2 separate regions of the Homo sapiens genome follow, and region 2 is linked to region 1. Evidence: fine-mapped expression QTL. Tissue or cell type: testis. Region 1 holds a variant in brackets; the other region holds the start of a gene. All regions are shown on one strand. Distances are between the middles of the regions.

The links. PIP is the estimated chance that this variant, and not a neighbour inherited with it, causes the effect. A credible set is the group of variants that fine-mapping cannot tell apart.
Region 2: it holds the start of OPRD1, and the variant in region 1 is the best candidate, but not a certain one, in a credible set for the expression of OPRD1 in testis (GTEx, PIP 0.61).

The regions. Positions count from the first base shown.
Region 1 is chr1:28,891,333-28,895,531 of GRCh38, forward strand. It overlaps a transcript of EPB41 not described here. Among named protein-coding and RNA genes, the nearest start is that of EPB41, 21 kb to the right of the region's middle. The variant A/G (reference allele first, on the strand shown) is at 1,911.
Region 2 is chr1:28,810,330-28,814,528 of GRCh38, forward strand. It overlaps OPRD1 (opioid receptor delta 1), which reads left to right and starts at 1,841. Exons shown (of 3, transcript NM_000911.4): 1 at 1,841-2,281. The coding sequence starts at 2,055.

The DNA.
Region 1 (4,199 bases):
AGCTGTTTGATAGCTATTTCAGAGGAAGAGACTGAGGTTGGAGAGGTTCAAAGGCTTGTCTGGGGCTGTTCAGCCAGTACCCCAGAGACTGAAGGGAAATAAACCAAGGGAAAACCCGGAGAACAAAATCCAGGCAGATATGAGCTAGAATCCTGGGTTGGCCACTTAACTAGGCTTGGAGGTGTGAAGTGGCACCCCTGAGGACACACGAGAGTCCCTTCACCTAACTGTCCTCATCTTTAAAGTGGGAATAGTAACAATTTCTCCTTTGTCCACTTCCTGGGTTGTTGTGAAGGTTAAAGGAGATGAGGCATTTGTAAAATCAGGTGAGAATGTGGTTGCTGGTCATTTTTCAGTCCAAAGCTGCAGTTCCGGGTTTGTGTTTGTGGTGGTGGGAGCATTTCTGACAGCTCCTCTGTTGAGATGCTTTATCCAGGAGTTGTGCTGGAGAGAAGCCCTAAGAATAACACCACCGGCCGGGCATGGTGGCTCACACCTGTAATCCCAGCATTTTGGGAGGCCAAGGTGGGCGGGTCACCTGAGATCAGGAGTTCGACACAGCCTGGCTAACACGGTGAAACCCCGTCTCTACTAAAAATACAAAAAATTAGCTGGGCATGGTTGGTGGCAGGCGTCTATAATCCCAGCTACTCGGGATGCTGAGGCAGGAGAATCACTTGAACCGAGGAGGCGGAGGTTGCAGTGAGCCAAGATCGTGCCACTGCACTCCAGCCTGGGCAATAAGAACAAGACTGCATCTCAAAAAAAAAAAAAAAAAAAAAAGAATAACACCACCATTTATTGCACAGTTGCCGGTACCAGGCATTGTACTCAACTTCACCTCTCATTGTATCATTAACCCCCTACAGCAACTTTGTCAGGTAGGTGGTACCCCTCACCCATGCTGGGTCCCTCCAAAACCCATGCCAACAGCCCCTGTAATGATAGTAGCAAACGCTTCTGAATGGTTTACTGTGTGCCAAGCATCCTTCCAGACGTGTTACATGTATTGACCCATGTTAATCCTCACATCAACCCTGTGAGGTGGATACTAATATTATCTCCAGTTTGCAGATGAATAAATGAGGCATAGACAAGTAAAAACGAGGCCAGGCGTGGTGGCTCAAGCCTATAATCCCAGCACTTTGGGAGGCTGAGGTGGGTAGATCACCTGAGGTCAGGAGTTTGAGACCAGCCTGACTAATACGATGAAACCCCATCTCTACTAAAAATACAAAAATACACGGTGGCATGCGCCTATAATCCCAGCTACTTGGGAGGCTGAGACAGGAGAATCGCTTGAACCAAGGAGGCGGAGGTTGCGCCATTGCACTCCAGCCTGGGCAACAAGAGGGAAACTCTGTCTCAAACAAACAAACAAATAAACAAAACAAAACAAAACAAATGGCCCCAATGTCACAAAAGGTAGAGCCATAAATAGTGAAGTCAGGATTTTCCCAGGTTCTTTTTTTTTTTTTTTTTTTTTTTTGAGACAGAATCTTACTCTGTTGTCCAGGCTGGAGTGTAGTGGTGCGATCTTGGCTCACTGCAACCTCTGCCTCCCAGGTTCAAGCAATTCTTGTGCCTTAGCCTCCTGAGTAGCTGGGATTATAGGCACCCACCACCATGCCAGGCTAATTTTGTATTTTTGGAGAGACGGAGTTTCACCATGTTGGCCAGGCTGGTCTCAAACTCCTGGCTTCAAGTGATTTGCCTGCCTCGGCCTCCCAAAGTGCTGGGATTACAAGTGTCAGGTTCTTTTATTCTGAGATAGGGTCTCACTCTGTCGCCCAGGTTAGAGTACAATGGGGTGATCACGGCTCACTTCAGCCTTGACCTCCTGGGCTCAAGGGAGCCTCCTACCTAAGCCTCCTGAGTAGGTGGGACTCCACCACACACACCTAATTTTC[A/G]TATTTTTTGTAGAGATGGGGTTTCCCCATGTTGCCTAGGCTGGTCTTGAACTCCTGAGCTCAAGCAAAACTCCCACCTCAGCCTCCCAAAGTGCTGGGATTATAGGTGTGAGGCACCGTGCCCGGCTGGCCCAGGTTCTTAAAGTCTCCTCCTTGACACAATCATCACAGTTGTAATTCAGTAGTTATTTACATGATTGTCTCCTCACTGCATTGTAAGCTCCATAAGTACAGGGGCCATGTCTGTCTTCTTCAGGCTGTATCCCCAACACCTGGCACACAGCAGGTGCTCAGTTAATGTTTGTTCACAGGGACGCTGCTGCCTCTAGTGGGCTGGGCCCTGGAGGCCTGATGAGCTGAGGGTGGATTATCAGATTATTGCTGACTAGGGCGTCTGCCCCAGCAAGACCCCAGAGGCAGAGGGAGGGCAGGGTTCCCTCCTGGCTCAGGCCCTGGCTGAAGAAGGGGACCCAAAGGGCTTTTTCTTTGGCTGTGCTGTGTGTCTCACTGCTGTCATTTGCTTCCATGTGCCACTGCGGTGATGGCTCCATGGCCTCTCCTGGACTGGCTGCGTGACCCCGACGGCTGCTTCTGGGTGAGTAATGGTTTGACTTAATGACTGCCACATGAGCTGATTTTAATGCATGTCCTGTGGCTCTGAGGCCACTGGGAGGCGTAAAGAGAGGCCCGGGGGTAGGGGTGGAAATGCTGAGAGAGGGCACTCTGTGATTTTAGGATCCTACCATAAGCAGGGCCTACCAATTAAACACACTGGGTGCTGATTTTTTGGTCACATGATACAATGCAAAGGTCTTTGGGGCAGACTGGGCTGGAATAGAATCCTTTTTCTGTTGCATACAGGTGGGTGATTCTTTGCATCTCAGTTTCACGTCTGCAAAATAAGAATATGAATACTTATGGGACACAAGTATATTTGTTCTTTTATTCATGTAAGCCCCACAAGGGCAGGGATTTTTGTTCATCTGTTCACCAGGTGCTGTATCTTCAGCGCCTAGGGTATAGTAGCACGTAGTAGGTGCTCACTGAATGTTTCCAAAGGAATGAAGATATTTATTGACTGTTTATGGTATACCTATCAATGTGCTTTGTATTGGATTAAATGGCTAATGGATATAAAGGGCCCAGCATGATAGGGGCTCAGTGAATGTGAATTCCCTATTTGCTCAATAGACTGTGACTTTCTTGGGGATCAGGGCTCTGGTAAAGTGAGCTCTGGGTCTTCTGAACTTAGTAAGGGGCCAAGTACCAAGCATGTATCAATCAGCACAGAGAGGGGCCTGGCAACTGGACTTCCTGGAGAGGGAGTGACAGAGCCTCTAGTTTTCATCAGAAGAGAGAGGCAGCTGGGAAGATCTGGGGCAGAAATGGGAGGGATGGGGAGGGACTCTGCCTTCTAGTACTGCCACTTTTCCTTGTCCAGGTGTGACCCTGGACAAGGCATGCTCTTCCCTGAGTCTTGGAGACCTCATCTGTGATGTACATATCACAACACTTTCCCCGCATAGGTGTGGGAAGGAGTTGATGAGAAGAGCCCACACAGGGCCCCATTTGGTAACTTCCCAGCCCTGGGCTCATTCTGGGATTCTGGGAGGGGACTATGTGTTCCTCTTTCTGGCTTTTTTCTCCTACTTTTAACTGCTCACCCAGCTGGGACTGGAATCCAAGGAGCCCCTGAACTTCCCAGCAGACTGGCCAGGGCCCTGGGATAAGGGCTGGGCTCTGCCTGGTGTGGGAGGAGCTGAGTGGAGGTTCCAGCTCTGCCACTCTCGCTGTGTGACTTGGTTCTGTAACCCCTTCTCTGCCTCGGTTGCCTTACCTGTAAAGTAGGGTTATTAAAAGACACCTCCCTTGAAGAATTGTTTAATTAGAAAATAGGTGGATTAGGCATTATTATCCATAATGCTATTTGGCTCTGGCTGAGGTGACTCTAGGGAGGGCCCTGAAGAATTACATCCCACTGTGGCCCAGGGAGCCTGGGACTCACTAGTCATCATGTGTATTATTGCCATTTATTGGCTATTTCTTATGGGCTGGGCTGGTTATATGCTATTTTAGACACATTATCTCATGCATTCCTCCTAGTGACCTAGGAGACCCTCTGAAGCAGGCATTATTATCCCCGCTTCATGGCACTGGGTAAGTCAAGTGAGTCACCCAGAATCCCACAGTTCTTTAGGGGTACAGCTGGGGCTCAGACCCAAGCCTGCTCACTCCAGGGCCCAAATTATTATTATTATTTTTTTTTGGATGGAGTCTCACTCTGTCACC
Region 2 (4,199 bases), 81 kb before region 1:
ACAAAGGAAGTGATATTTAAGCTGAAATTTGAGGGGTAAATAACGCTTAGGCTGGGGTATTGGCCCAGCCTTCCGAGTGGAAGGAATAGCATGTACAAATGTCCTGAGGTAGGAAAAAACTTGGCTTGGAGGGTTAGGGAGGGGACCAGAATTCCAATAAAGTAGCCCTCCTTCTTCCTATCCCAATTTCTCTCTGCTGGCACTAGAAAAGTTTCTGAGTACCAGGCCCTTTGGGAAAGGGAGAGAGTTTTGGCAGCAGGTGACCACAGCAAAAATCTTTCTGATAAGTCCTTAGGTGGTTGAGTGGGAAAGCCCTGGGGTGGGGGGCTTGCTGTAGTTGGTAGAAGTGGCTGGACAGCAGCTAAGTGGGGTGGAGAAAATGGAGAAGAGGGTGAGCTTGGGAATTCTGGCTTTGCTTTTTTCTGGGAAAGGGTAGGAGCCTTGCACATATATGGATGATTCAAGCTAGAGGGTGAGATGAGGGAGAGCTCCTTGTCCAGCCACACACAGATCCAAGAGCATTGCCCCAGAGCCTAGAGCTCAGAACCCCTAATATTGTTCCACTCCAGTTCCCTTTGGGATCTTTATTATCCAAAAAGTATTTCTTGAGCACCTGCTGTGACCCCAGCCCTCTCCTGGATGCAGGGGTCAATCAGACCTGGTCCCTTTAAGGAGGGAGACCAGTTCGGATAGAAATAATTACTATATGGGATAATTTAGTGCTGAGCACTAAATCTGTAACATGGGGACAATAATAATAGAAGCTACACCAAAGTGTTGGTGCATGGATAAAGTGCTTATCACAGTGCCTGGAGCAAAGTAATGCTTGGTAGAATGTTCTGGAAAGGCTAGGCACCCCAAGAAGAAGGATGGCTCTAATCTGGAATGGTTAGGTCTTGGAAGGGGTGTGGCAAGGATGACTTAGCCAAGTGCCCCCCTTCTATCTGCTCGCACTGCAGCCAGAGTGCTCCTTAAGGTGGTCTTCAAGAGCCTGCCCACCACCTCATCGCCCCCTCACTTCCTGCCTTCTCCTCTTCCTGGCTTCCTTTCAGTCCCTCTGCTTCCTTTATCCGGAATCCTCTTCCCTTGTTACTTCCTTAAGTTAGTTCTTCCCCAAACTTCACACCTCACCTCAAGTGTCGTTTCCCCAGGGAAGCTGTCCTGACCCCTGGGTTTTGTAGACCCTGCCACTTTCTCAATTCGTACCTATATCTTAATGTCATTTTAGGGTTGCTCGCTCTCTCTCCTGCACTGGGCTGTAAGCCCCAGGAAGCAGAGGCTGCATCTGGTTTTGTGTACTAGAGGGTCCCCCCAAATACCCGGCTCTTCTATTAGGCACCCTCAGAATTTTTGTTGAGCGAATGAATGGGGTGCAAGAAAGGCACGGATAATATAGGTTATTTACGGAGCATGTAACTGTCCGCAGGGCACTGCTCTAAGCTCTTTGTTCGAATCATTTTATTCAATCTCCCCAACCACCCTCTGAGGGAGGTGGTACGATTTTCCTCATCTCACAGACAAAGAGAATGAAGCTGAGGGAGGTTAAGTGACTTACACAAGGTCACTCCGCCTGTTAGTGCAGGGGCGGGAGGCGGGATCCACACCCAGGTCCCTCTGACACCAAAGTGGCAAGGGGGTGGGAGGGGAGTCCAGGTTGGGACGGGGTCGCACTCGAGCCGGCGGAGCATCCCTAGGGAGGGGGCGGGAGGCCTCCCCTGCCCAGCTCCGAGCCGGTGGTGCAGCGTCCGCCCCCGGTCGCGGGCGCAGACTGGCGGCCGCCTCCGGGCCACGTGGTGCGCGCGGCGGGCGCGTCCGAGGAGCCTGCGGCTGCTCCTGGCTCACAGCGCTCCGGGCGAGGAGAGCGGGCGGACGCCGGGGGCTGGGCCGGTGCGGGCGGCGAGGCAGGCGGACGAGGCGCAGAGACAGCGGGGCGGCCGGGGCGCGGCAGCCGGCGGCGTCGGGGCCGCGGCCTCTGCCTTGCCGCTCCCCTCGCGTCGGATCCCCGCGCCCAGGGCGCACGGTGGAGAGGGACGCGGCGGAGCCGGCCGGCAGCCATGGAACCGGCCCCCTCCGCCGGCGCCGAGCTGCAGCCCCCGCTCTTCGCCAACGCCTCGGACGCCTACCCTAGCGCCTGCCCCAGCGCTGGCGCCAATGCGTCGGGGCCGCCAGGCGCGCGGAGCGCCTCGTCCCTCGCCCTGGCAATCGCCATCACCGCGCTCTACTCGGCCGTGTGCGCCGTGGGGCTGCTGGGCAACGTGCTTGTCATGTTCGGCATCGTCCGGTGAGTCCGCTGCGGGCCGGCGCCGCAGGGCTGGAGCCCGGGGTGAGGGTGGGGATCACGAACTTGAGACCCCAAGCCCGTTCCCTGGACTCCCCGCGCCTCCGCATTTCCTGCAGGGGCACCTGGGGCCCAGCGAGAGGCGAGGCCACTTACATCGAGGGGAACACAGGAATGTGTGTCATCGTGTGTATGTGTGTGTGTGGTGCGGGGGGGGGAGTGCGCCGCGGTTGACTAAATTACATTTGATCATCTGTTGGCATCCCCTTGCTTCTTTGTGGGACAGTTTGGCGTCAGTTTGTGTGTCTGTCACAGTTTGTGAGTGGATGGTTGTGACAGTACAACTGTATGTTTGGACGTCGGAAACATGCCCATGGGGTGGGCAGAGCTGCTCTGAGGTGCCGCGGGCCTTTGGGGAGACCGGTGTGAGGGCACCGTGCAGGCAGGGCGGACAGGAGGGTGCTGGGTGTCAGCACCTCGCCGTGGGGCCCTTACCAAGTCATATTTGGTGCTCATCTGTTGGTGTGAGCTTGTCCCTAACGGTCAGTTTGTGATTCTGTCTGAATGTAACAATGTGACTGTTGTTTCTTGTCAAGCTCTTGAAACCCCGAGGGCGGCAGAGCATCCGGAGTGGCCGTCGTCCCTGTGTTTGTGCAGCTGTGTGTGCCTTTGCCAGTGATTCCTGGATAACATGGGCGACAGCTGTGGGCCGCCAACCGGTTCTCTGTTCCCTTCGCCAGTGCCCATCTGGTCAGGAATTCTGAATAGGATTCAGAGAAGACTCACGCCCTCCTCACAAATGCCCTCTCCCATTTTCTCTTTGCCTCCTCTAACAGTCTTTTCTTCTGCCAGAGGCAGCAGAGGTTGGTCTGGGCGGGAGTGGATTTTGAGTTTTCATCCCAGGAAGTGAGGTGCTCTTCTTGGAGTTTATGGAGAGTGCTGGGACCTTCTCAGAGAGCCTAAGACGTCAGCTTGCCCCAGAAGTAGCCCTCCTGATACAGCCCCACAAGCTCAGACATGGCCAGTAAGGGTTGAGAGGAAAATTTCCATCTTTAAAACAACAAAGATGCCCTCGTATTTGCTGTTAGTTGAAAATGGGTCCTTCATGCTGGTGGACCAAGGACATGGCCCTAAACCTCTCTGGGCTGTGGGTGCCACCATGCAGGGCATAGGTCAGGTCGTGGACTCAGAGGTTAGAGAGATGAACTGTAGTCTCAGCCTAGTCATGGATGCCCAGGCATCATTCTTCCTGCCCTGCCTCCCATCCGCCTCAGTTTCCCTGTTCGAAGAATACAGACCTAATCTCCTCAATTGGAAAGTATGAATTCCAGGGTATGGGGTCTCTGCAGCGCAGAACGTGGTGTGTTGGAGCATGGGATGAGGTGTGTGGGTGTCAGTGGGCTTCGGCATTGATGATCTCTGGGAGATCTTTGCTCCTCCAGAAAGAGTGGCGGGTACAAGAATTTCCTGTGCTTTCCATGACTCATCACAAGCAACAGTGGGAGAATTCCCCCCAAGCACAGGCGGGACTGATCTTTACTTTGTGTCTTTGTCAGTGATTCTCCCCACTTCGCAGGCTTCGAGGCAGGCCGGCCTGGTATGAATCCCTGCTCTGCCACGAACTGGCTCTGTGACTTGGATGAATCACTTAGCCTCTTTGAGCCTCAGTTTCTTCATCTGTAGAATGACGTAATGATAAATCTTCTTCCACAGGGTTGTTGTGAGGTGTCAGTGAGAGAGCACATAACGCACTGGCCTGGCGCCTGGACCCAGTAAATGGACGCTGTCTGTATAGCGAGGCGGAGGGATTTTCTAGATCCTGTAGAATCTGACTAAAGAAGGGAGCTTGAGGGAGGTGCTTGTCCTAAGGTGGGCCTGAGAGTAGCTGTGATTCTGAGAGCTCCGGATTCCTGGCACCTGC